4 linked regions of the Homo sapiens genome follow. The protein of the gene in region 1 interacts with the protein of each later gene in a pairwise test. Each region holds a gene or a part of one and is shown on either strand. Other genes may lie near its edges.

Evidence for each region.
Region 2: the proteins of UTP14A (region 1) and CSNK1D interact in binary tests that used the Homo sapiens proteins (3 or more experiments, as listed by UniProt).
Region 3: the proteins of UTP14A (region 1) and BLMH interact in binary tests that used the Homo sapiens proteins (3 or more experiments, as listed by UniProt).
Region 4: the proteins of UTP14A (region 1) and SMYD1 interact in binary tests that used the Homo sapiens proteins (3 or more experiments, as listed by UniProt).

The regions. Positions count from the first base shown.
Region 1 is NC_000023.11:129,916,163-129,923,196, forward strand, and holds part of UTP14A (U3 small nucleolar RNA-associated protein 14 homolog A), read left to right. Parts: intron 1-3,012; coding exon 3,013-3,132; intron 3,133-3,232; coding exon 3,233-3,327; intron 3,328-4,294; coding exon 4,295-4,418; intron 4,419-4,512; coding exon 4,513-4,590; intron 4,591-4,640; exon of another isoform or gene 4,641-4,780; intron 4,781-5,031; coding exon 5,032-5,425; intron 5,426-7,034. UniProt on the Homo sapiens protein: May be required for ribosome biogenesis.
Region 2 is NC_000017.11:82,249,701-82,256,734, reverse strand, and holds part of CSNK1D (casein kinase I isoform delta), read left to right. Parts: intron 1-1,157; coding exon 1,158-1,306; intron 1,307-3,490; coding exon 3,491-3,719; intron 3,720-4,130; coding exon 4,131-4,301; intron 4,302-5,207; coding exon 5,208-5,356; intron 5,357-6,555; exon of another isoform or gene 6,556-7,034. UniProt on the Homo sapiens protein: Essential serine/threonine-protein kinase that regulates diverse cellular growth and survival processes including Wnt signaling, DNA repair and circadian rhythms. It can phosphorylate a large number of proteins.
Region 3 is NC_000017.11:30,260,921-30,267,954, reverse strand, and holds part of BLMH (bleomycin hydrolase), read left to right. Parts: intron 1-1,000; coding exon 1,001-1,070; intron 1,071-7,034. UniProt on the Homo sapiens protein: The normal physiological role of BLM hydrolase is unknown, but it catalyzes the inactivation of the antitumor drug BLM (a glycopeptide) by hydrolyzing the carboxamide bond of its B-aminoalaninamide moiety thus protecting normal and malignant cells from BLM toxicity.
Region 4 is NC_000002.12:88,091,825-88,098,824, forward strand, and holds part of SMYD1 (histone-lysine N-methyltransferase SMYD1), read left to right. Parts: intron 1-1,692; coding exon 1,693-1,731; intron 1,732-4,770; coding exon 4,771-4,960; intron 4,961-7,000. UniProt on the Homo sapiens protein: Methylates histone H3 at 'Lys-4' (H3K4me), seems able to perform both mono-, di-, and trimethylation. Acts as a transcriptional repressor. Essential for cardiomyocyte differentiation and cardiac morphogenesis.

The sequences.
Region 1 (7,034 bases):
CCAGGATGGTCTCGATCTCCTGACCTCGTGATCCGCCCACCTCGGCCTCCCAGAATGCTGGGATTACAGGAGTGAAAATTTCATAACTTTCGACTATCACTCTCAACCCCTTCTTTGAAGCTCCAGTCTCATATTCCATGTGACTAGCAGGGATCACCTGGGTCCCCCATATGCACCTTAAACTTAGTCCAGTCCAAAGTAAGCTTCGCATTTCCTTTCCCCAGACTTCCAAAACCTATACCACCCCCTTCATTCTGCAACTCAGTTAACAGCATAACTCCCTACCCCAGTCACTTAGGTTGGAAACCTCAGTCATTTGATTCCTTCTTGACCCCTTCACTGTCTCCCTCTCCGCCAGCTTATACAGGGGGCTAGACCTGCAAATTCTGTCTCTGTAATAGCCCTTATGCTCCTATTTTCTCTTCATTTTCATTTTCACTGCCCTAATCGAGGCCCTCATTGAACCTTTCCTTTGGAACTTTACATATATCCTCTACACAATCAGCAGGATTTTCTTGCTGAAACACAGTTGATCATTGCTCTCCTGCTTAAAATCCTTCAAAGGCTGTTCACTTACAGAATAAAATAAAATTACGTAGCATTTTAGCTATGCTGGACAACACGTTGTTCTATTACATACCACTCCTTTCCCTGTGTCTGTGTTTTTTGCTTATGCTCATCTGTTTGGATTTTTTTTCCTCCTGACAGAATTGTACTTAGGCCTCAAAGCCTAATTCAAAAGGTCACTTCCTTCCCTAAGCCTAACCTACCTCCCAATAATATTTAATGGTAATTTCCTCTGTGATTACCCCTATAGAATAACGTAGCAGTTATGTTATTTAAGGGTAACATAAAGGGTATTTAACCCATTATGTTATGCTGTTTGTGTTGTATATGTCTCTGCTCTCAAAGGCTGTGAGCTCTATGAGGACAGGAACTATCTTAATCAATTGTGTATTCCTAGCACCCCATACAAGTGCCTGGAATATAGCTACAATCAATAAATGTTTGTAAATTGAATTGAATTGAAGGGACATTACAACATTGTAGTATAAATCACTTTGTAGCCTGAGATTGATCACTACTGCAAATACTAAAAGTGGAAGAACATATACCTTTACTATTCAGTAGAATAGTTTTATGGTTAAATCAATAGCATCGTGTAACATGTGATGATGTGCGTTTATGCATTTATCCAAATATTTGTAAGTTTAATACTGACCACGATGTATATGGCTATTGAAGAAAACCACACATAATATGTGTGTGAGGTTTGAAACTAGCTCTGTTGCCTAGGGCTGTCTTTGTGCCTTGCCAGAATGTGGACCGTGGCATGATCGGCCTGAATATTTAGCCATCCTCATGATAGCATGTGGAATAACTGGTTTACAGTTCATTCGTTTCATACATACTCTGCCTAGCATGTAAAATTAACTGGAAACTGAGGAATTGGAGCCAAAGTTAGAAAATGAGGAGAGTTCAACTTGAACCATCAGGAAACAGGCTGATTACATGAAGGTCTTTTTGTTTGTTTGTTTTTAACATAATAAATAGAGATGGGGTTTCACCATGTTGCCCAGGCTGGTCTCAAACTTGTGGGCTCAAGCAATCCTCCTGCCTCAGCCTCCCGAAGTGCTGGGATTACAGGCCTGAGCCACCATGCCCATCCTATATTTTTTTTCAGGCAATATCCTTTTGTGCTCAAGAAATTAAGACACACACCCCACCACAAACTACATTTGAAGACTCTGCCAAAAAAATGCCATGTTTTTTCTCATTTTCTTTCATCAGTAATTAATGATACCAAGAACACTTATATGCATGGTTTATAGCAGTTGGCTATGGTCAAAAAAAGTTGGGCTTCCCCTCTGAGACATTTGCAGATATATGTCCTAGGTATACCATCAGTGGCAAATAATGCTTATCTTAAGATCTAATCTCACAGGGCATGCTGGGCTCACGCCTGTAATCCCAGCACTTTGGGAGGCCAAGGCAGGAGGATGGCTTGAGGCCAGGAGTTTAAGACCAACCTGGGCAACATGGCAGGACCCTGTCTCTACAAAAAATAAAAAAAGTTAGCCAGGCATGGTGGCTTACACTTGTGGTCCCAGCTGCGCAGGAGGCTGAGGCAGAAGGATCACTTGAGCACTAGAGGTGGAGGTTGCAGTGAGCTGAGATTGGAGTGCCAGTGGACTCCAGCCTGGGTGACAGAGCAAGACTCTGTCTCAGAAAACAAAAAAAAAAAAAAAAAAAACTAACCGCCCCTTCCCTCTAGAAATATTCTAAAAGAAGGCTTATGATATGAATTTGAGATTCCTAACTATAAAGTAATAGTTATGTGCTTCAAATGATACATAACAATACAGGGACTCAAGGGCAATGTGCCTAGATTCTTAAGAGAATGGAAATCAGTTTAACATATATTGGTAATCTGGGCCGGCGCGGTGGCTCACGCCTGTAATCCCAGCACTTTGGGAGGCCGAGGCGGGCGGATCACGAGGTCAGGAGATCGAGACCATCCCGGCTAACACGGTGAAACCCTGTCTCTACTAAAAATACAAAAAATTAGCTGGGCGTGGTGGCAGGCATCTGTAGTCCCAGCTACTCGGGAGGCTGGGGCAGGAGAATGGCGTGAACTCAGGAGGCGGAGCTTGCAGTGAGCCGAGATCACGCCACTGCACTTCAGCCTGGGCGACAGAGCAAGACTCCATCTCAAAGAAAAAAGAAAAAAAAAAACATATATTGGTAACCTGAACACAGTGATCCCCCTCAGCAGTATTAGAGAGTAGCCTCAGCGTCTCCCTGCTGAAGTTGTCTTATATAAGAATCAAATAAGGCTTTATTTATACTTCTGACAACAAGACTGGAACCCCCTTCTCTTGCTGTAACAGCCAATCCTATCCACTTATGATTCCAATTATAGTGTCATAAGTTAGAGAATCATAGGAATGTAAAGAGAGAAAGCTGTAAGAGCATGGCTTAAGACTCAGAATGTTTTGTTGCTTCTTTAAGGCAAGAACTCCCCTGGAGCAGGAAATTTTCAACCTCCTCCATAAGAACAAGCAGCCAGTGACAGACCCTTTACTGACCCCTGTGGAAAAGGCCTCTCTCCGAGCCATGAGCCTAGAAGAGGTAAGTGTGTCATAGGCCCTTCAGCACACCCAGGCATGCCACGCTTCTCCTAGCATTTGTCCTCTGGCCCAGGTGTCACTGTAAGTCTCATTTGTTGTAGGCAAAGATGCGACGAGCAGAGCTTCAGAGGGCTCGGGCTCTGCAGTCCTACTATGAGGCCAAGGCTCGAAGAGAGAAGAAAATCAAAAGTAAAAAGTAAGGAGGCCCCTGTGAACTGGCCTTGGGTTCCACAGAAGAAAGTCATGTGGTTCATCATGAATTCTTTGGAGAGAACCTTTGATGCAGCAACTAGAGTCATGCAGATGAGGTCCCAAACAGGAGTGACTAGCCTTTTGTTCCCCCCAAACCAACCTCATACAGTTTTGCCAAAAAGATGACTATTCAGTTACTTTCTCTGCCTTCCAAGGCATCACAGAGTGGTTCTGCAGAATCAGCTCTGAATTCCAGAGCTGTTAAGGCCAATAGGGCTTCCTTCCTGCCTTTTTGCCTCTTTGAAACTTGTTCGGCCGGGTGTGGTGGCTATGCTTGTAATCCCAGCACTTTGGGAGGCCGAGGTGGATGGACCACTTGAGCTCAGGAGTTCAAGACCAGCCTGGGCAACATGGCAAAACTGGCTGGGCACGGTGGCTCACACCTGTAATCCCAGCACTTTGGGAGGCTCAGGCAGGTGGATCACTTGAGGTAAGGAATTCAAGACCAGCCTGGCCAACATGGCGAAACCCCATCTCTACTAAAAGTACAAAAATTAGCCAGGCATGGTAATGTGCACCTATAGTCCCAGCTACTTAGGAGGCTGAGGCGGGAGGATCGCTTGAGCCCAGCGGGTGGAGGCTGCAGTGAGCCAAGATCATGTCACTGCACTCCAGCCTGAGTGACAGAGTGAGACCCTGTCTAAAAAAAAAAATGAAACTTGTTCTACCCCTCCCTTGAGTTATAGAGGCAAAGGAGACTCTTTGAGCTGCAGAGGTCCACCCTGAGGACTGTGGGTACCAAGAATCTTGCCAGTCCTGTCAGGTCCCAAACTGACTCCCTATAGCCAACTAGCTCTATGATGCCCATTCCAGCCCCCTGCCTAGGGAACCCATTGGGTAGTATGGGCACTTGTGCCTATGACATCCGTGCTTCAGCTAAATTGCTAAACTCTTCCCTCCTACCCCTACAGGTATCACAAAGTCGTGAAGAAAGGAAAGGCCAAGAAAGCCCTAAAAGAGTTTGAGCAGCTGCGGAAGGTTAATCCAGCTGCAGCACTAGAAGAACTGGAAAAAATTGAAAAGGCCAGAATGATGGTGAGACTACCTCTTGCCCCACCCCCACCCCTTTGAACCAGCTTTCCTTGGAAGGCACTAAAGATGTAAATCTCACTCTGTCCTTTCTTTCTAGGAAAGAATGAGCCTTAAGCACCAAAACAGTGGGAAATGGGCCAAGTCAAAGGCAATTATGGCCAAATATGACCTGGAGGTAAGAGACCCTTGGGGTGAGAGAAGATCTGGAATTGGAGGATGCTAGCAGAAGCAGAGTTGGGGAAGAGCCATGAGGATGGATGGAAAACCAGGAATCTAAAAAGGCATCAGAAAAATCTCTAAGGCAGAAAGGAAAATGACCAGGAACAAGGTGGAAAAGGAGAGATGAAAGGGAAACAGCATTGAAGGCAAGTCCAAAGGGGGAGAGGAGCTTTTTAAAATCTTATTTCACCGTTGATTCCTTGAGGACAAAGAATTTGTCTTCCATTTTATACCATAGCTATTAACCCAGCATTGTATATGCAGTTTAAACAGTAGGTACCAGTAAGAAATACTCACCAAGTCAAATTGAGAGGAGGCAGCTTTATGAAATGGACCAGGAAAGGTGTTATTGCGGTCACTAATGACAGGGCTCTCATGCTGTGACTCTTTCCTCCAGGCTCGCCAAGCTATGCAGGAACAGTTGTCTAAGAACAAAGAACTGACACAGAAACTCCAGGTAGCCTCTGAGAGTGAGGAAGAGGAGGGAGGCACAGAAGATGTGGAAGAACTCCTTGTCCCTGATGTAGTGAATGAAGTGCAGATGAATGCAGATGGGCCGAATCCCTGGATGCTCAGGAGCTGCACCAGTGACACCAAAGAGGCTGCAACCCAGGAGGACCCTGAGCAACTGCCAGAGCTTGAGGCCCATGGAGTTTCTGAAAGTGAGGGAGAAGAAAGACCAGTGGCAGAAGAAGAAATTTTGTTGAGAGAATTTGAGGAAAGGCGATCCCTTAGAAAAAGATCTGAGCTCAGCCAAGATGCTGAGCCAGCAGGCAGTCAAGAAACAAAAGGTGAGCTGTGATCAAATGGAAGAGGGAAATTCCTAGTGCTGTGGACAGACTATGGGAGAAAAAAAAAATGTGTCCACCCACACACAAAACTGCATAGTGATTAGGCGCTGGGGACTTGCAAGAGTGCGTACACTGGATCCCTGAAGAGAAATTAGATTCATAACTATTTTTCTTCGAAGACATTTAATAAGCAGTCATCTGCATGGCCGTGCAACGTGGTTCAGGCACATTTTCTGTTCTTGGGGGCTTACAGCCTTCAGAAACCCATAATAACTAAACCATACTCGAAGTCAGGGTATGAGTTAGCGTTCCTGGTACCTACACACCAGGGAGAAGTACGTATGGTAGAATGGCAAATCTGAAAGTCCATTCACACCTGTAGACACAGATAGGTCAATTTTGAGACATTAGGAAACATTGTCTAGTTGCTGGATTTTTTTGTTTTGTTGGTTAAGTAGGAGTGGCATTTTTAGCACTTCTTAATGCTAGTTGATGTGTGTATACATGGGGTGAGACTTTACGGAATGAATGACTCCACAGGGCCACATGGCAAATTAGAATTGTGACTCCATACTCAGGCTCTATTTGTATGTTATATTTTCTACCTGTTATCTTGAAGAGATCTTATTGACAATGTTAGCACCTGTGAGATTGGTCAGAGAGTTCCCATTCTGGCAATAAACCAGGACACTAAAAAACCTGCCTAGGAAACTAGCTACATTGAGAAATCACTTGGCTATCTGGACAAATTACCAGGTCTGGTTTGGTTTCACATAGGAATGCATTTAGATGATGGCAAAAATCTGGTTTTACACGGCAAAAGAATTATTTTTTTCTACTTTTTTTTGTTTAAGAGACAGGGTTTTGCTCTGTCATCCAGGCTGGAATACAGCAGTGCAATCATACCTTACTGCAGCCTAAGACCTCCCAGGCTCAAGCGATCCTCTTGGCTCAGCCTCCCAACTAGCTGGGACTACATGCACGTGCCACCATGCTGAGCTAAGTTTTTGTAGAGACTGAGGTCTTGCTCTGTTGCCCAGGCTGGTCTTGAATTCCTGGCCTCAAGCTATCCTCTCACCTCAGCCTCCCAAAGTGTTAGGATTACAAGTGTGAGCCACCGCACCCAGCCTCCTTTTTTTTTTCCTTTTTTTTTTTCAGGTTTCCACATACAAAAATTTATTTTAAAAGAGCTATCATTTAGAATATATTATAGGGACCTTTACTTAATAGTTTTGGCTGGATATTTTTGGGATTAATAATTGCAAGTAGTCACTTCTGAGAGAATTTTGGAAAGCAGCACAGCGGGCTGAGATTGTGGGGGTGTACATATATGACCACAGGACCCTAGTGGCTTTCTCTTGAGCCCCCTCAACAACTGGCCATCTAGCTAAATGTGCAGAGCGGCTGACTGTGATATGAAAGAATGAAAGATAGATTTGCATTTCCTTGGACAGTAAATAAATTGAATTTTCTCACACCTTCCAAGAGTGTCCTAAAATACTGGAAAGCCACGGACCCCAGTGAAAATGAGCAAGGAAACCTGATTCTTGAGAAATAAACGTACATGTGTCCAAAGGCCAGATCTAAGGAGCTACAATGGCTTCATGCC
Region 2 (7,034 bases), on another chromosome or scaffold:
TTTTGGGGGTGGCATTTTGAGAAACCCACCTGTTGCTGCAGCATTTGAATTTGACTGTGGCGTGAGGCTGCGGTGCACATTCCTGTGCATGTTTTTACCAGCATGTGTTTTCCATCTCTCTGAGAATCTTCTTGTGGTCGTTGACTTTTCATACGTAACGTCTTGGGTGAAGTGTCCAGGTCTTTCACCCATTTTTTCTAAAATGGATTTTTTTTTTTTTTTTTGACAGGGTCTTGCTCTGTGGCCCAGGCTGGAGCACAGTGGTGCCATCACGGCTCACTGCAGCCTCCATTTCCTGGGCTCAAGTGATCCTCTTGCCTCAGCCTCCCAAGTAGCTGGGACCACAGAAGCGTGCCACCACACCCACCTAATTTCCAGAATTTTTTGTAGAGACAAGGGTCTCCCTTTGTTATCCAGGCTGGTCTCGAACTTCTGAGCTCAAGCAGTCCTCCCGTTTCAGCCTCCCAAAGTGCTAGGATTACAGGCATGAGCCACTGCACCTGGCCCGTGTGCCTTTATAGTGTTGATTATGCCTTCAGCACTGATACTATGCAGCCATCTTTAAATTCTTCCTGTTGGATTTATTGTGTCTTTATTTTCACTTCCCTGATTTGTATATTTCAATCCTGGGTTACTGTGTAAATCCCCAAAAAGTTTTCATTGCTTTTGCTTTTCTCTTATCCAGTCAAATACTTCTACCAACATCGGAGTAATTGAACATATTTTCTTCTCTCACCTAACCCACGGTAGCTGCTTTCTCTCCTCCCATCTCCTGTGTGACGTTTCTGGCGGGCTCTGCTGCTCCTTTATGCCTGAGCTCTTTTCTTTCCCACATCGTGGCTGCTTTCTGTGTCTCCTGCCCCCCTGCCCTAGAAGACGGGAGTCGGGGAGGTGGGGCTTCGATCCCCTCCTTGTCCCCCTTACAGCTCCTGTCTGCTTGGCCCTCATCCAACGTCTGCCTCAGGCCATTTGCTAATAGATGGGGCCTAATCTCGAGGATGGGTCCCTGAGGAGCGGCGTTGCCGGGGTCTTCTACCTCCACCACCCCTCCCCCGTTCAGGATTGTCACCATGACCCCTTGGTGTGCACAGTGCAGACTTAGTGTGGAGCTGAGGCAGGGCCTGGACTGAAACACTGTGTCTGATTTCCTTGCCTAGTGGGCATCCCCACCATCAGATGGTGCGGGGCAGAGGGGGACTACAACGTCATGGTGATGGAGCTGCTGGGGCCAAGCCTGGAGGACCTCTTCAACTTCTGCTCCAGGAAATTCAGCCTCAAAACCGTCCTGCTGCTTGCTGACCAAATGGTAAGGACTGTTTCCTGACAGTTGGCACACACTTGCTGTCTGATAGAATCAGCCACTCGCTTGTGCTGTTCTTGCCATTATTATGGCCATTAATTCACAGAGGAAATGGAAATTTGCTGAGCCTCAGCCTTGAGGCTGCAGTGGCTCAGCTCACTGGCTTCTCGAGGCTCCGGTGGCTCCGCTCACTGGCTTCTCGAGGCTCCGGCGGCCCAGCTCACTGGCTTCTCGAGGCTCCGGCGGCCCAGCTCACTGGCTTCTCGAGGCTCCGGCGGCCCAGCTCACTGGCTTCTGGAGGCTCCGACGGCTCAGCTCACTGGCTTCTCGAGGCTCCGGCGGCCCAGCTCACTGGCTTCTCGAGGCTCCGGCGGCTCAGCTCACTGGCTTCTCGAGGCTCCGACGGCTCAGCTCACTGGCTTCTCGAGGCTCCGGCGGCTCAGCTGACTGGCTTCTGGAGGCTCCGGCGGCTCAGCTCACTGGCTTGTCGAGGCTCCGATGGCTCAGCTCACTGGCTTCTGGAGGCCCCGGCGGCTCAGCTGACTGGCTTCTCGAGGCCCCCGGCGGCTCAGCACACTGGCTTCTCGAGGCCCCGGCGGCTCAGCTGACTGGCTTCTCGAGGCCCCGGCGGCTCAGCTGACTGGCTTCTCGAGGCTCCGGTGGCTCACCGCACTGGCTTCTCGAGGCTCCGGCGGCTCAGCTCACTGGCTTCTCGAGGCTCCGGCGGCTCAGCTCACTGGCGTCTCGAGGCTCCGGCGGCTCAGCTGACTGGCTTCTGGAGGCTCCGGCGGCTCAGCTCACTGGCTTCTCGAGGCTCCGGCGGCTCAGCTCACTGGCTTCTCGAGGCTCCGGCGGCTCAGCTCACTGGCGTCTCGAGGCTCCGGCGGCTCAGCTGACTGGCTTCTGGAGGCTCCGGCGGCTCAGCTCACTGGCTTCTCGAGGCTCCGGCGGCTCAGCGCACTGGCTTCTCCAGGCTCCGGCGGCTCAGCTGACTGGCTTCTCGAGGCTCCGGCGGCTCAGCTGACTGGCTTCTCGAGGCCCCGGCGGCTCAGCTGACTGGCTTCTCGAGGCCCCGGCGGCTCAGCGCACTGGCTTCTCGAGGCCCCGGCGGCTCAGCTGACTGGCTTCTCGAGGCTCCGGCGGCTCAGCGCACTGCACTGGCTTCTCGAGGCTCCGGCGGCTCAGCGCACTGCACTGGCTTCTCGAGGCTCCGGCGGCTCAGCTCACTGGCTTCACAAGGCTCCGGCGGCTCAGCTCACTGGCTTCTCGAGGCTCCGGCGGCTCAGCTCACTGGCTTCTCGAGGCTCCGACGGCTCAGCTCACTGGCGTCTCGAGGCTCCGGCGGCTCAGCTCACTGGCTTCACGAGGCTCCGGCGGCTCAGCTGACTGGCTTCTCGAGGCTCCGGCGGCTCAGCTGACTGGCTTCTCGAGGCTCCGGCGGCTCAGCTCACTGGCTTCTGGAGGCTCCGGCGGCTCAGCTCACTGGCTTCTCGAGGCTCCGGCGGCTCAGCTCACTGGCTTCTCGAGGCTCCGGCGGCTCAGCTCACTGGCTTCACGAGGCTCCGGCGGCTCAGCTGACTGGCTTCTCGAGGCTCCGGCGGCTCAGCTCACTGGCTTCTCGAGGCTCCGGCGGCTCAGCTCACTGGCTTCTCGAGGCTCCGGCGGCTCAGTTCACTGGCTTCTCGAGGCTTCTGGAGGCTTCGGTGGCTCAGCTCACTGGCTTCTCGAGGCTCTGGTGGCTCAGCTCACTGGCTTGGAGGCCACCTTCTCGGTACCAGCATAGCACGTTTCCATTCAGTGGGTTCCTCAGTCTCTCAGGAACACACGTGATTCCTAAGCACCTCCGTGCAGTTTCTCTGCTAATCCTGGTGTGTAGTCTGTGCAGAGAACAGTGCTGGGAGAGACCGATGTCTAGTGGCGGGTTGTCCCCTCTCTGTCGCCTCACCTCTCTGTTTTGTGGGAGCTGAAGGCAAAGCGCCTAGGCCTGTGGAGGGTGGAGTGTGGAGGGTTGCTGCAGGCACCTGGGGGAACAATTTGGTCAGTTCGGCATCCCCCTCGCTAATTGTTAAACTACCCTGCTGTGGCTGAGGGGCAGGAACAATGCAGCCACTGATGTAGTGTCCCACAGTTGAGCGGTCCCTCCCTGAGACTGCCCTGGGGTGCCATCTCGCGCCCTTGCTCTGCTCACAGATCAGTCGCATCGAATACATTCATTCAAAGAACTTCATCCACCGGGATGTGAAGCCAGACAACTTCCTCATGGGCCTGGGGAAGAAGGGCAACCTGGTGTACATCATCGACTTCGGGCTGGCCAAGAAGTACCGGGATGCACGCACCCACCAGCACATCCCCTATCGTGAGAACAAGAACCTCACGGGGACGGCGCGGTACGCCTCCATCAACACGCACCTTGGAATTGGTGAGCCCCTGGGCATGGGGTCACTGACCTGGGGTGCCTTTGGGCGCGTCCATGCCTCAGCCCAGGGAGAGGCCAGCCTCTCGGGGAGCTGGGGCTGCAAGCGTGTCATCAGACCTTTGCGGCAGACAGGCTGGCTCGTGACTGCCAGGTGTATGGGGGCAGGCGGATGCTGGGACATTTCTGAGTCACCTGTGATGTGTTTGGGAATTTCCTTAGTATGCATGAGGGGCAGCTCTGGGTGAGAGTGATCTGGGCATGTGTGTCCGAGGTTCGTCTCCACTGGAAGTGCCAGCTGGAGTGATCTGGGCATGTGTGTCTGAGGCTAGTCTCCACTGGAACGGCCAGCCGGGTCTTTTGCTTTGACGTGAGCACGCAAGTGCCGTTCTTCACGCCTTTCCCTTTTCTTTTCAGAACAATCCCGAAGAGATGACTTGGAGTCTCTGGGCTACGTGCTAATGTACTTCAACCTGGGCTCTCTCCCCTGGCAGGGGCTGAAGGCTGCCACCAAGAGACAGAAATACGAAAGGATTAGCGAGAAGAAAATGTCCACCCCCATCGAAGTGTTGTGTAAAGGCTACCCTTGTAAGTCTCTGGAGGCCTCTTCTCAGCGGAGCTGCTCACAGGGGTTGCATATGTGTCGGGTGTGCCGAGACGGCTCAGTCTGGGTTTTGTCAGAAGAGTTGCTCACCTTCCAAAGGGGTGGTGGCAGGAAAGCGGGGCGCTTTTGTGTATGGAGGTAACAGCCTGCCCTCCTGTTCATCTTGACTTACTTGCCAAGTGCCCATCAGCGTGGGGAGTACTTGGAGGCCCTGGAGAGATGGCAGGCAAGGCAGGCCCGAGCCTCAGGGCCCCAAGTGGCTGGAAAGGGATGGACAGGCAGTGGTGGGGCCTCTCTCTGCAGTGGCTGCCCTCTCTGGCCCCCTCCAGGAGCTCGGGAGATTTCCTTTGCATTTGTAGGATTGCCCCAGGATACACACCTCAAATGAAACTAAATTGTGCTTTATGACTTCTTTTTTTTTTTTAAGACACAGTCTCACTCTGTCGCCAAGGCTAGAGTGCAGTGGCGTGATCTCGGCTCACTGCAAGCTCCGCCTCCCGGGTTCATACCATTCTCCTGCGTCAGCCTCCCCGGTAGCTGGGACTACAGGCGCCCGCCACCACGCTCTAGAACTTTTTTTTTTTTTTTTTCAGTAGAGATGGGGTTTCACTGTGTTAGCCAGGATGGTCTTGATCTCCTGACCTCGTGATCCGCCCTCCTCAGCCTCCTAGAGTGCTGGGGTGACAGGCGTGAGCCGCCGCACCCGGCCGTGACTTGAATACTTTTCGATGCTTTCTCAAGGCTTCAGGTCTTAGAAATCTGACAGGTGTTTTGCATCTGTCCTTCTCCCCTTGAGTGTGCAGCAGCAGGAGGTAGACAGCGACGTTGGCAGAGACACCTTGAGTCGCAGTTGGGTTTCATGAGTTAGCTTTGAGTTTCTTGTTTTGTAGCCGAATTTGCCACATACCTGAATTTCTGCCGTTCCTTGCGTTTTGACGACAAGCCTGACTACTCGTACCTGCGGCAGCTTTTCCGGAATCTGTTCCATCGCCAGGGCTTCTCCTATGACTACGTGTTCGACTGGAACATGCTCAAATTTGTAAGTCGCACTGCCAGCACGTTCGCTGAGTGTGGTGTGCGGGGGATGGCTTGTCAGTGAGAGGCCGGCGGCCGTCTTGTTGAGGGGCTGTACCATATAGGGAGTGTCTCTGGTTGTGAAGGGCAAGTGTGTAGTGGGCAGGACCTGGACTGAGTGGGTGTCTGCCTGCCAGAAAGGGGTGCCAAGAAGTAAGACGCCATTAGGGAACGCAGAGGGGTCCATGGAATTCCTGGGTGTGGACAGCAGGAGGCCCCTTCCCTCCCTGTCACCAAGCGGAGCTAGGGCCCAGAGCATGCCCTGGGGGCAGAGGGTGGGGGCTGGGGGTGCGCATTCCCATTCGCTGTGCCACATGGTCGTGGTGCCCACGAGATGAGTGGGGTTGGGGCCTGGTGAGGTGCTACCCGTCTAGCCTGACTGACCCTGTCATGAGCTGATTTTCCCTGTGGCTTTCTTGATGCGGTGTGAGTATGCAGTGGAGCCTCTAAAACAGGCAGCCCAGCCCTGGGTCCATGTCTGAGCTGAATTACTTTTCAGACACCGCTGTCAGAAATGAAGCTCCTGTGGAACTGTTGTGTTCCTTCATTAAAAACTTACTGTTTTGTTGTCAGTTTTAAATAGAATTTGGAGCTTTTCCAGGCAGCAGTCTGATGGAGGAGCAGAACTGCCTCTTGGGAGGGTACAAAAACGGCAGCCTTGTCCAGTAGTCGTGCAGGGGCCAGGGAGGGGCGGGGTCTCCAGATGCTGGGAGGGGTGCACTCTGTTCATCTTGACTTACTTGCCAAGTGCCCATCAGCGTGGGGAGTACTTGGAGGCCCCGGAGAGATGGCAGGCGAGGCAGGCCCGAGCCTCGGGGCCCAGGTGCCGGGAGGGGTGCACTCGGCAGGGCAGATCAGTCCCTCTGCCGGGGCTGTGCTGCCTCGGGAGGAATCAGAGCGACCCTCCTGCGGCATTAGAGTCACCCGGCCCTCAGAGCAGGCTAGGCCAGCGTTTTCCGTAAATGGCAGCATGAGGAGTCTGGGCGGTGCTGGCCGCACGGTGCTGCAGCCGCAGGTGTGTCGGTCTGTGTGTTGCCTGGTGAACGTGGCTGTGTCCAATGAGCTGTACTTGCAGGAAGAAGTGGCACCTGGGTTTGGCCCCGGGGCTGTAGTTTGCAGGCCCCTGCCGCACAGCATTGGCAGTTAGAATCTGCTTTTTCATAGGTTGCTGTCTCGGCTTAAAATCTGACCTCCCCACCCCCGTGCATCTGGATAGTGCAGCACAGATCCGGCTGCCGGCTGCTGGCCACGCCACCACACCTGCACAGGCTGTTGGAGGCTGCAGGGTCCGGACCCTGAGTGTACTCCTCGTCCGACCAAACGCTCTCATCCCCACCCCGCTTTCCTCCCCAGCTGTCACCATTTGGGGCCTGTCTTTGGCCTCCGATGGTTCCTGTCCCTCTCCTCTTTCTGCACGTGTTAGTGAGCATGTTCACAGAGCAGCAGGGGGTAGCTGCTGCCCATTTGGAAGTTTAAGGAAGTTCTGAGCCCACAGGGAGATGCCATGGCGAGTGGGGTTTTTTCGATTGTTGGGGGAGCTGAGAGGCCTGGCTCTGACCCCTTGTGGGGATGATGCTGTCATCCCATGAGGAGAAACGTGCAGCCTGTGGGGGGCTTTGCAGGCAGTCTCGTCCCAGTGCCCT
Region 3 (7,034 bases), on another chromosome or scaffold:
GCCAAGAGTGGAGTGTTTGGGTTAGCAGAGCCAAAGAGAACCAAATCCCATATAGATGAGACTCATCATATAGTTATTTGCAAGTGGGAGTTGACAGATGAAATCATTAGGCGATAATACAGGGGTGAGTGCTCTTCTCATGCTACAAAGATTTAAGTTGCCTTGACATCAGTAAATGTCCTGGGTAAACATGAAAGAAAAAAGTCTTTTCCCAAATGGAGCCTTCCTCTTGTCCCTCTCTGTGTCACTATAGTAAAGGCTGTAAATGAAGGTTGTTGTGATGAGTATCACTGTCCCTTTAAGAAGACCAAAATTGAGCTTATTTTAATAATGAAGATGGAAGAAGGAGAACAGTAGAAGTGCCTGGCTTTTGTTTATGAAAATGGTCTTTTTACTTTTGCTTTGCCATTCAGTCTCTTCTTTGAAATTCAATATTTGTGTAACTGGATCAGTAAAAGAATGCATTTGGGAGAGTATCATTATTTGGTTTCCCCAAGTAGAAAATCAGGCAGTATGATGAGTTTGTTTTGTTTTGTTTAAAAAAGACTCTGACCAGGTTTTAGAATTATTCCTAAAATAAAGTAGGATGCATTTGCTTTAATCAATATTGATTGATTAAAAGCAAGAATCCCCAGCTTCAAATGTTTACTGCTTTTAGTAGGTTAATATAGTTTTTCTTAGTCAAGTAGCATTTTTACATGCCTATTTTATGTATACAATAGAATAGAAAGGATGAAATAGTATTTATTGCTTTGTTAGTTTATTATGTTTTTACCCCAAGAGATTCAAATTCCATTTCTACTGGAGTATCCCTTTAGTGATCGTAGGAAATATATAGCCCTGACCAAGTACTGTTTAGAGCAGGCTGCCTGTATAGAGCAGGCTGCCTGTATAGAGCAGGCTGTTTCTTTCAAGTGGCTACAGAAGAGCTAAAATTATATGACACCTCAGCAGGGAGAATCTGGCTTCAGACTACTCACCATCATCCACTTTTTTGCAGGATGATCAGGATGGTGCTTTCACAAAATGGAGAGTGGAGAATTCATGGGGTGAAGACCATGGCCACAAAGGTGAGCTCAGTTTGGTAATACTAACTCCAGGTGACTGGGCCTGCTCTACTCTGCCTGTCTGGGTGTCAAGCTGCTCTAGTGTGGAGGATTTCTCAGTAATTGGCTCCACTGACTAGATTATTCTACAGAAAAATCTGAGGATCTGATTTGCCCCCAGGATTCTCCTGACCATTATGGCATGCCTGAACTCCCAGGTTGGCTCTGAGACTGCTATGTGCTGCATTTGTTGCAAACTGTGTTGACCCTCCCCTCTTTGTAGACCGCTTGGCTAGTGAGGAGGTTGAGTGCCCTTGCCAGGACACTTGCTATATGGCATTTGATGCATTTTCTTTTTCTTTTTTTTTTCTTTTTTTTTTTTTTTGGACAGAGTCTTGCTCTGTCGCCCAGGCTGGAGTGCAGTGACGTAATCTTGGCTCACTGCAAGCTCCACCTCCCGGGTTCACGCCATTCTCCTGCCTCAGCCTCTGGAGTAGCTGGGGCTGCAGGCACCCGCCACCACTCCCAGCTGATTTTGTATTTTTAGTAGAGACGGGGTTTCACCGTGTTAGCCAGGATGGTCTCGATTTCCTGACCTCGTGATCCGCCCGCCTCGGCCTCCCAAAGTGCTAGGATTACAGGTGTGAGCCACTGCGCCCAGCCTTGATGTATTTTCATCTACTACATCAGTACTCTAGAAAGTCAGAAGCCTTCTGTATGGGAGAATGGGACTGGCAAGAAGCTTTCTTTAGGCATTTATTAGAGACTCCTTAGAAGTTGTCATACCTAAAGTGGAAATGAACACTTTGCTTACCACTTAGCACTTCTTTATACTGGCAAATCAAAACCTAGGGAGAAGTCATAACTTACACTAAGTAGACTAAACAAAATAACACAGTAATATATGAGTTGTAGAAAAATTTTAAAATACAGATAAAAAGTCTCTAATAATCCAACCACCTAGAGATCACTGTTGATTAACAGTTTAGGGTATATTATTGTAAAATTTTGAGACCACATTTTTAAAGACTGTCTTTAGTAATAGCTTTTGAAAGAGATTTTACGCTTTAATTTTTAGGGTTCCAAACCAAAAGTGGCAATCACCATGGCATATGTGTACCTGTGAGCATGTAGATTCATGTGTGCTGGGGGCATTTTATAGCCAGTTCTTTCTCAGAGTCCCTTTTTCTTTTAGCCAATGGATTCTGGCTAGGAAAAACATTAACCGCACCTTAGTAGACTAGTTAGAAGACTGAGAAGAACCAGGTAGGGAAGCCAGAGAAGTGACATTCAGAGATATTTGGAAACAAACTTGAGCATACATTTTACCCAACAGGAATTAGCCAGGCATTTTATTTTTAAAAAAAGAAAGAAAAAGAAATTTTAGCAACTCTTTGTTGTTGCCCCTCTCTGTGTTTAGAATCGTGATTTTCCAGCTATGTTCCTCACAGCCGTAGGATTTCCAAGGGTAAAAGGTAGAGGAGGGGGTGTGGAGGTTTGGATATGAGCATATGGGACTTCCATAGCTCCTATTTGAAAAATTGCTGTTTTAGAAGAGCCTGTTAAGCTGAGTTTTGAACTTGACAGCATTTTAGTATGCTGATTGGGCAGCACAGGCTTGTATGTGATAGCCAAAATCTGAAGACCATTTATTTGTCATTCGAGGGCTTTTCATCTCTCTATGAGAATAATCACTGGTGGATTTTGGCTGACTGTCCCTGGAATATGCTGTGATACTCAGCAGCCCAGTGTTTATATGTAAACAAATACAAGTGCTGTTACTGCATTTCTCTTCATCATCAGATAGTTACATGTCTACCTTCTGTGATTTCTATAATTGTTCTGTGATTTTAGGGGTGCCTATTAAGTTAACTACTACGAATTAGAATACTTTTTAAAATTGGTGGTTTCTTGTAAGGTGAATTTTATTTTAAGACAAATACACATTAGGGTCAAGTAGAGAAGGGTTTAAACCTCAGCAAAGTTAGCAGAGTAAAAATAACTCACAGTTTAGTTATATCTGTAAGTTGGTGATAGTTAAGAGATGGATACTTGTCTTAAAATTTGAAAGATTTGATTATTTCTAGCAAACATAAGATACTGAGTTAAAGTTTTCCTGTTGCTTCCAATGAACCCCCTGCAGCTTCTGTTTCATTTCTGGTCTAATTTGGTTCCTATAATTGGATTTGTTATCATATAGGTTAGCACCTAGGAAAAGAACTAAAGTTATATTTGTTTAGATGAGCCTGGATCCGTCAGCTTGCTGCGATATTTTTCCATCTGTAATAGTCAGTGAGTTTGAAGATAGTAGTGTTATCTGGTTAAGAGAGGATAAACACTTGTAAAATCAGGAAAATGTGTTTTATGTAGTGTGAGTTAATGTCTTTATTATTTTGAACCTAAATACTTAAAGATAATTTTAGGTCACTTTACTGTATATAATTTTTCCATTTAGCTTTACCTCTTTACTTTTACTCAATAAAAGTTTTGCTTTTGCTAACTTACTCATTTCATTATTATGCTTAGAGAACTGTAAAATATGGGATCTTGCTATCCCTGTAACTCTCCTGTAATCCTTCTTAGTGAAATCTGCAGCTATCTAGTAAAGATTAACTTTTTTGTTGTTCTCAAATAACTGAAATGCCTGTGACTATACACAGCAAAGCATTTCAGTAGAGAGCCAAAAGATAAGAAATAGAACTGAAGTGGGGGTAGGGAGTCGTTCATTCAAGCCAAAATAAATTATTCTCATGTGTTTCTTGGTAATGTTCTTTCTAACTTAACAGGAAGGAAGGAAAGAAAACATGATCTAATTTAATTGGCACACTTGGCCTGACCTCAGGAGAGCGCATAGTATGTTATTATGTTGGCAATATGTGTTTATCCCAGCAGGGCCTTCTTGTCTGTCATCCTAGTGGACATTGGCTGGCAGGTCTGAGGTAGGACCTCTGTTTATGCTCTCTTGGGAGATATGACAACCTTAAGAAGCATTGCTGGGATTTTGTTTCTGTAGATAACATTGTTAACAGTTTGTTGCTATTCTCTTTGGGATTTCTGACTGTTAAGATTGATGTTTCTGAAAAAGCAGTGTTGATAATACATGCTGGAGATAAACAGAGCAAAGATACCTGGGCAAGCTGCCTTTCCCCTTTGCCCAGCCCTGGCTTTGGTTCTCCCCATTGGTCATGTTCATGGCTCTCCTGCCCAGAAACTCTTTTGTAACACATAACCTGACTATTCCAAAAATGGACAGAAGGTTTCTTCTGAGCAGGAGGACATAAAAGGAGAAATCAGTTTTTGCTTTACTGTACCAGTTGGATTACTTCAAGTTGATGAATTCTAGTATTCATAGTCAGTTGTACTGAAAATTGGATGCATATCTAACATGTAATACCAACCTGGGTTTCTTTTCTCCCCTGCTTCTTAAAATACTTGACTATCCATTTTGTACCTTGTTAATGGATCATATCAGAAATGAATTTCACAATTAGGTGAGGGAACAGACTTCGGGATTTGATATATTATCTTTCATTTTGAAAAGTTGATAAAAATATTTTATAAAATATTTAAGAATTTAAAATCAAGGAAGTCACCTTTGATTCCTCTCGTTATTAGTCAGAAATTCATCTGAGAAGAGCCTAATCTCTAAGCCAAAGTGACCTGCAGATCCCCTAGCTAGTAAATGATAGAGCCAGAATTATAACCCAGATGGCCTGACACCAGAGCCAGTTTTCTTAACCACTAAACTGTGCTTTCTCTCACCTTCCCTGTTCTAGTAGCATGTCGTCCACTCAAGAAATAACAGGTCAGTTCATGGTCATTGGTGACCAGAAAGAGTGGATGAAGGGATATAAAACTGTATGAAGGACCTGGAGATGTTATGTAAATGTCTGACATTGGGAGAAAAGGCCCCTAGAGCATCATTTGTGGCTGGGAATCTGAGTAAAGAGTGGAGATTGGGGCATTCTGTGAGGGTTTGTCACATGTTAGCACATTGTGACTTAGGCAAGTCAGAAACTATGCAGCCACCCAAAATTTCCCTGAATTTTGTCCATGCTGCTTTATAATAAGGTTATTTAGTTGTTTTTTTGTTTTGTTTTGTTTTTGCTTTTTTGAGACGGAGTCTTGCTCTGTTGCCCAGGCTGGAGTGCGGTGGCGCGATCTCAGCTCACTGCAAGCTTCGCCTCCCAGGTTCACGCCATTCTCCTGCCTCAGCCTCCCAAGTAGCTGGGACTACAGGTGCTCCCCACCACGCCTGGCTAATTTTTTGTATTTTTTAGTAGAGACAGAGTTTCACTGTGTTAGCCAGGATGGTCTCGATCTCCTGACCTTGTGATCCTCCCACCTCGGCCTCCCAAAGTGCTGGGTTACAGGCGTGAGCCACCGTGCCCGGCCAAGGTTATTTAGTTCTTAACTTTTTATCTTGGACAATTTTAAACATATATAAAGTAAACAGGATTGTATTAAAGAACCCTGCATATGCCTGTCACCCACCTTCAGTAGTTATCAATATTCTGTCATGCAAATAATAGTGTATTTGATAGTCAATAAATTAAATTCCTAGATGGTCTTTCTAATGAACCAGTCTTACTATGAAACTTTACTTCTTTGTGATTGGTTCACTTAGTTATGAGATTGTATTCCATTTCTAGAGCCTGACACAGCAGAACTCTAAATGTGGAATTATCATAATATAGTTCTTAATGCTTATTTGGTCCAGTTTCTCAATATGATAAGTAACAACTTTTAAGTGAAGATATGGAGGATATTTTCTAATTCTGCAATGTTCACTGAAGGAAAATACTTACCTTTTAAAAATTTTGTCTCTCCTGGTTTTCATTTTGAACCAAGATGAGTTTTCCATTTTTCACATTGCTTTTGTTCCTTTCAGATACATGAACATTTGAAATTGTTTTTAACCCACATTTTTAATCTTTTCTTACAAGTGAGCCTCTCTGTTCCTGATTTCTTTCATTTTAGTAAAATTTTCAGACTTCCTTCTAGAAAGGAGCCTCTAAATGGTTTCAGTTAAAGATACTTTGGCATGTTAGAGATTAGAAAGAAACATGTTATCAATTCAGACTATATGTAGATTTCTGCTGCTTCCTAAAAACCAACATTATGACCTTTAATTGTCTCACCAGCCCAACTGCCACAAGTGATTTTGGAGATGGTATATTCAAAGCTAGGCACAAAAATCAACATATTCTTCATAAAATGCTATGTTGTAGAACCAGGTGAGTTGTGGAGAGACAGTTACTAATAATTAATTCTTGATTTTAGATGCTGGGCAGTAATTTAACTCATTGTAGTGTCACATTTCTATGTCAATAACATGGACAATTTGTTTCTTTATGAGCTCCTACAGTTTGTATGTAGCCATCAAATGAAATAATGTATGCAGGCATTTTTCAAACTGTATATTGTTATATAAATCTAAGGAGTTATGAACAGCCCATATTTCTGTTGGAGGTACTCAGGACATAAAGCTACAGGGCATCTTGCTTCGTGAGAATTCAAAGTTCACTAATGTATTTGTATTTATTTCTCCTCATGACATCAGAGTAGAGTAACTCAGGATGTGAACATGGGTGATTATACCCAGGTTTTATGTGAAGAAACTAAAACTTACTGACAGTTGTGTCTTGTTTGGGTTGCACAGAATCAGAGATAGAATTGGAATTCAAATCTCTTAATTTGACACAGACAGCTTCCCTAAAATTCCCTATGTATTACTTACAAAAGACAATCAGTTATTTGCAGGTCTGTTTGAGGTTCAGTTCTGGATCTCTAGTACAATAATGGAAACTAGGCAATGTTGGGCCAGACTTGCTGAAACAAGAGTGAATTGTAGAACTTAAAAGCACAGGTTTCTGATTTCCGAGAAAGGGGCAAGTTGCAAATTTGTTTTGTCACCTCAGAGGGTTTCATGTCTCTCCAGGCTTGGGAAAAGTGCTGCTACCATTAATCTGGATTCTGGGTTCTTTG
Region 4 (7,000 bases), on another chromosome or scaffold:
CTGCACTCCAGCTTGGGTGACAAAGTGAGACCTTGTCTCTAAAACCAAACCAAACCAAACCAAACAAAATAATATAACAACAAAAAGAAACTAACAGGAATGGTGAGGTGCCCAGGGACTAGCAACACATGAAACCATCACCACCTCTAGGCCTGGAAGGGCAGGTGAAGGAAGCACTGTTTCTGCAGCTAGTGAGAGCTGGACCCGGGATAGAGGGCCCCCAACAGCTCAGCTGTGGCTTATAACTGTGTCTAGAGAAACCAGCCAGCTGGCACCATGGCTCAGAAAAGAGGAAGCCAATGGACTAGATAGTCCAACCCCTCATTCCCCCAACCTTCTGCTCTCCTACCATTGGCCAAACCCCAACCAGAAGCCAGACCGCAAAGAAACCTGGGTGACGCAACCCTCAGAGGCCAGCCCCCTTTTCTGAGACAGCACAGATGAGGGGGGACATAAGGGCACATGATGGATTTGGGGGTGGGGTACAAATGGAGAAGAATCAGCAGATGGAATGAGCTCCTGGTGGTCCATGGCTCAGGATGGGGAAATGTAGGGGAATGAGGCCCGAGCAATATTAATTGCTTTTGCTCTTAGAGATGAGCTTTTATGACAGATACAAGCTGACTTTGAGCCATCAACAATGAGCAAGTTTCCCCCAAAAACTTCCTAGAAGCCAGACAATGGTGTCTGGTTCTCAGCTGAGAATCGGGCCTAAGCTTCAATATGCCAAGTACCCTGATTTCTCTTTTCCTTCCTATTTCTGAAACCAGGCTCTTAAGTAATTGAGAAAGTCACTCAAGATGGGAAAGTTTATTTTGGACTCAGATGATAATCTTTTCTCAGCATTTGTGTTTCCTTTCTGAAGCCTTTTGGGGTCACTGGCCTGGATCTCATGGAATCCTCCCTAGAGGGGCTGTTGACTGAGCTTGACCTGGTTGGCAGAGAGGATCAAATTCAGCCATGTATGGGCCTGGGCCTTCTAGATGGCCCTCTTCTAAGTGGTGGTGACCCAAGGCTCCTCTTGTCATTGGGTGTAACAACCACAGGAATCTAGGAACTCTTTCTTCTGTGTCTGCTCTGGCTTCCTTGCATCTACTAATTTCTAGCAGCCACATTTTATCCAGGCTTCTTGGCTTTTGTGCAAGAGAAGGTGACTTTGCATTTCCTGTCTAGCCACCTGCCATAGTGGAAAGAACCCTAGACATGGGGTTAGGGGCCCAATTTGAACCCCAACAATTTTTACATACTATCTCTGTGACCTAACCAGACTCCATGTGCACTTCAAACTCTTTCCAAGACAGACATCCAAAGAGGCAATGTTTATTCACCCAGGATGCTTAATAGAATGATAATAACAACATTGTGCATGTTTTTCCAGCACTCTGCTTTTAACTGTCTCATGACAGTCTCATTACAGGTGAGAACACTGAAACACAGGGAAGGGAAGGAACTTGTTCAGGTCAGGGCTGAGTACCTTTGAATCCAGAATGTCTTGTTCCAAATTCAGTGCACTTTCCCTATACTAGGCTGTGTCTTGTCCAGTGAGTCCAGCTAGAAGGGGCTAGGATAAAGGTTATTGTGATGGCCAAAGCTTTGATACTGTGACCCAGAATGCTGTACACCCTTGCACTGGATCACACCTGATCAGCCAATGATAATGATTTCCATATGGGTGTCTGTTTTGTCTTTCAGTCATGAGGCAGTGAAATCCATGTTTCATACCCAGATGAGGTGGGTCAGTCCTTTCAAGCATCCCTGCTCCTCTGACCCATCTCCCTCACTTACCTGGTTTGCTGGGGCCACCCATTCCCGAGACTTCTTGGCTGCCATCTGTCCATAACGTCCTTCTGCATCCCAGTGTCTCATCTTTTTAATGCATTTAAATTAACCATTTTTTCCTTACCCACATATCACCTGCCTTGCCTTTGCTTTATTTTGCCTCCTTTCTTCCTCCCTTTCATGCCTCACTTCCACTGCTCTTCCAACCTTGAAGCATGAACCCTTGTAGTCCACATCGTCTTAGCAAAAGCCTATCTTGTCTCCCTAAACCCTGCTTACCATGAAATGGGGACTGTGACTGACCTACTAAAGGACTGTCTGTTTATAAGCCCCAACTTCTCACCCAGACTGGGCTCCAAAAAATAGCATCTATAACTGATATTTTTAATAAATATTTATTCCTAGTATTCCGCTTACTGCTTCTGACCAACTATGAATTAGTAGTTTAGGTTAAATTTTACTTTTCTTAATGACAACCAAATGGCCCCAGATGGGTCTTAGGGTGGGGTTGACAGCTCTTGAAATAGTCTTTGGATTAAGAACAAAATGCTGTGTGAGAGTTTGGGCTTTGGGAATGCTGGGGTAGAAGTGGTTGGTGCACTTGAGTCTGTGCTGGTGTGCACTGCACGTGAATTTGGATGATTCACATCATCTCTTGGACTTGGGTTCCACATCTGTAGAGAAAGGTCAAGAGGAGAGTGCTCTAGGGACCTTCCTAGTTCTAAGTCTCTGCAGCTCTGGGCTCTGTCCCTAACCTCTGTGAGAAATACTTAAATAGGCTGCCTACTTGTGGCTCAATTAGCTGAACTATGGAATTGCAGATTGTTTGAGGTAGAAGGGGTCTGGGGTCCAGAGTGGGGATGAAGCTTGTCCAAGAAAGCTGGTTGGAGGGAGAGCCAGGGCTAAAACCCTCATCTCCTGCCTCCTGCAGTGCTTATTTCAGGCTGGTCTCCATTCCCCTCCCCCAATCTCCAGTTTCAAGTAAGGTAAAATCAGGCATACATATATGCATCTTTTCATATTTAAGTGACATTAAGTTAATTTGGTTTTGAAAAATTTCTAATACCATTGAAATAATCAGACACCCTGAGACCGTGCAAGAATTGGCACAATCATGATGGGAAGTAAAATTACTGGAAATTCCAGCCCAATTGGCCACTGATTCACTGTTGCATTAGAATATGTCACTATGGTGGGCTGCCTCTGTAAAAGGGACTCGTGGGGGCAGAATTGGTTACTTACCCAACAGAGTTAAACACCAGAGATCCACACTCTATCCTGGCCCAGGAGTTTCTCACACAGAATTATTAAGGACATTAGTAGAGTCCTAAAAATCAAGGGCTTTGATGCATCTTAATTCCCATGCATTGAAGACCCAGGAAGCAGCCTGAAAGCAACCAGGCAAGGCTACTATGTTGAGGACAATTGTGAATGGTATGAAGTACCATTCATGATGGTATGAAGTTCCAATCCTGGCTCTGTCCCGAAAGTGTTGTGGGACCTATCCCTCTTGTGTCACTATCCTCATTTGTGAAATGAGTGTCCCTGCAGCTCAGACATAGGATTCTAAGCAGAACTGTGAGCAGAATCACCCGGCCTTCCTCTCCTACTGGCCATTCATCACTATAGTAACCGCTGCTGCTGAAAATTGGGGTAAGGAACAAAGGAAAGGAGGGACAAATGGTGAGCAGGCACTTCAGTTTTGCAGGCTCCACAGGAGTTGTTTTTATACATATTATCACATTAATAGGCATGTCAGTGTATCTCACTTTGGGAGAAGGATTTTTATCCATAAGTGGTCACCTCAGATGCCTGGATATGAACGTCACTACCATTCAGCAGTTGCTCCCTTGACTGTCACCTCAGACCACAGGGAAGGGGCTGCCTTTGACTGGGACTCTTCTCAGGTGCTGGAGTCTTGCCCTTGCTTTTGCATGCTGTCCAACTGAGCCTTTCTGGAAGGTAAAAGAAGTGACCACGGATCTCTGTGCAGATGCTCTCCCCAGCCCTCTGCATCCTGCCACTTCCTCTCTGGATGATGGCTTCCTACTAGGCAGGGAGGTCCCAGGATTCTGGGGAGATACAGGAGCATGGTTTAGGACCCAGCTTGCAGGGCCCACCACTTGTTTTCTGTAGCTGTCTGGCCTTGTGGTGGAGGATGCATGGCTGAGAGGTCCACGGACTGACCTCCACCTGTTTGGCTCAGCTGGATGTCAGTTCTGCAGTGGGTTTTTACCTTCAACATCTTCAGTACCTATCACATTAGGTAAGGTGGGTAGTGCTGTAGCTAATTGAGGGTCAGGTCTAGGCTGGAAGGGAACTGAAATGCCATCTGCCCTTGCTAACTACCTTCAACCAGTAAGCCACATCTCCCAATAAACACCAAAGTGAACAATGCAGTAAGCTAACAGAGCCAGCCTTTGTTTATTTGCCTTCAGTGATCTCCAGTGGGCTAAGTCTCCTTAGGTAATTTGGCCTGAACCATTGGACTGAAGGTTAAGAGGTGACTTCAAGTTAGACACAGAATGGGCCAAGGTTGTGGGTAACCGAATGTGTATGTTTCTGAGAGAGTAGTCCCCAAACTAACCAGAAAATATTTTTAGGTTTTTTCTTGTTTGGAGTTTTTGCCTTATTATTTCTCCCTTCCTTTGTTACAGACAATCAGTAGCTAAAAAGTAAAAGGAGGCTTACGGGCATGGACGTTCTGTCTGGTTTTATGACCAAGCCCAGCTCTCTACTAGGAGTCTATTTGAGCTGATTCCACAGTAGTTAACTGAATGGAATGGATCAGACGGTTCTAAGGAATAGAGTAGAATTACCCAGAAAATCATCCTTTAGGTCACATTTCTCCTTTTGTGGGGTCAATGGGAGTTTCTGAGTGTCAGTGAAAGTCATTGTCTTTGAGACCCAACTCCATGAAGCCTTGGAGAGCACGGATCCCATTCCAGTAGGCCTGGATTCGATTCACCTTTTCCTTTCACCCTGCTTCAGAATTGAGCTCCGGGCCCTAGGCAAGATCTCAGAAGGAGAGGAGCTGACTGTGTCCTATATTGACTTCCTCAACGTTAGTGAAGAACGCAAGAGGCAGCTGAAGAAGCAGTACTACTTTGACTGCACATGTGAACACTGCCAGAAAAAACTGAAGGATGACCTCTTCCTGGGGGTGAAAGACAACCCCAAGGTACACACAGCCCTGCTGCTGAGGTGTTTGTGTCTGTCTTCTCCGGGAGCCAGTCACAGGTGGTTTCACAGCTAATCCGTGTGCCCTGCCCATGAGCTTCCTAGGGAGCAACTGTCACCCTGGGGAGGAGGCAGGGCATGAGAGCAGAGCACCGCAGGTAGGTCCCAGCTAGGTCCTGGCACTGCCACTTGCCAGGTGTTTGAGTTTGGGGAAGTCACCCAGTTTTCTCAACAGTAAAATAGGAATGATGGCCCCACTGCAAGAGGTTGTTATAAAGATTAAAGGAGATGACGTGTGTAAAAGGAGTGGCATACGGAGTAGACACTGGAAATTTTGGTTCCTCCTCTTACTCCTTTATGAGTTGAGTGATGTTGAGAATTTAAGGTGTTCAAATCAGATGGGCAAAGAGATTTATCATCTGGTTATCAAAAAGATATTCCTAGTCCCATGGGGATGGGCAGTGTGGAGACAGGGCTAGGTTTAGATTGGTCAACATCCTGAACTCCTGGGTAGCTGTTGCCAGTTGATGGTGAGTCTGTTGAGCAGCAGAGGAAGGCTTGCTGAGGGGAGGTCAGGAACCCAGCTGAGCTGGGAGAGAGAGCTGAGCCGCCAGGTGTCAGAGTAGCCAGTTAAAGCAACAGAGCAGAAATGAGAGTGAAGTATTTAATCACTTACTGCAATGGTGTAAGCAAGAAGCTAAAACCGAAGAAAGCACTGACTCCTCTTGTCCATTTCCTCCAGTGAAGCTGTGCTCAGGGGGAGGATGAGGGGGATCAGCACAGGCATGGAGGCGTCTCACATGACATTCTCTTTTATAAGGACGCTAGTCCTATTGGGTTAGGAGCCCACTCTACTCCAGTATGATCTCACCTTAACTAATTACATCTGCAATGACCCTATTGCCAAGTAAGATTTCATTTTGAGGTAGCTTCTGGGGCTAGACTTCAACATATGAATTTTGGGAGGATACAATTTAACCCCTAACACTGTGTGTGCTACCATTTATGAACATTAAAAGGCACACACACACACACACACATGCACACCCATGTGCATGCAAGCATACTCGGTTTCCATACAGACAGAAGTAGGAGGACCAGCGATGCCTGGGGTGAAGAGATTGACAGTCACCCCTCCCAGGCAGAGACAAAGCAGTTGGGGTCCAAGGATTTATGTTTTCTATAGGAACAACCTCTTTTCAGAGAATCAAAGGTGTGTATTCTAGGACATGTATATTGGATGCATGTGAGAGGCACTGAGCACTGCATCATGGGCGCTACAGAAAAGAATTTGTTATTGCACTCACCCTCACCCCGACCTTTCAGAACCTGCGGATAACATGTCTTATCTGTGAGCCAGTCAGCCTTCCCTCCTGGAGACTGGCCCTGAGTATTTGTTTCATAACTTGCTTCCACACTGCTTAATTTATTTATTTTTATTAAGAGGCCAGACCCTCTTTTCTCTATTCTAAAATAAAACAACCATGCGATCATTTCTTTAGATTTTTTGATGTTTACCTGGCAGTTTCAATAGTTCAGTAGGCTATGTGTGGCCTTTAGTTCCCATCCCTTCACTTTAGATATGCTGTTACCAGCTGGTGACAATACACACACATCTCCAGTATGAATTGCAGAGTTGGCATTTCTCTTGATATAAAAGATTGATGATTTCTGCTTGAACCTACCTGAATTCAAGGCAAAAGCTTTCTATTATATTTTATATCAAATTGAGTTTCTCTATCAAAACAACTCAAAAATAACTCACCTATACTAACTGAGCAGAAAAAAATTGAGTATATCTTTTTAAAAGCAAATGCTTCTTCAGGCATTAAAAAAAGGCCATCATAATGTAGTAGGAAGAATACTGGAAGAAGAATTATGAGGCCTGTGTACTAGTACTGGCTATGACTCTAAACATCTGAGCTTGGCCAAGTCTCTTCCTTCTGGGCCTCAGTTTCCTCATCTGTAAAATGGGGAGTTGGACTAACTTATTAACCATTTCCTCAAGCTGGACTATCTACAATGTCATCACAATCATTTC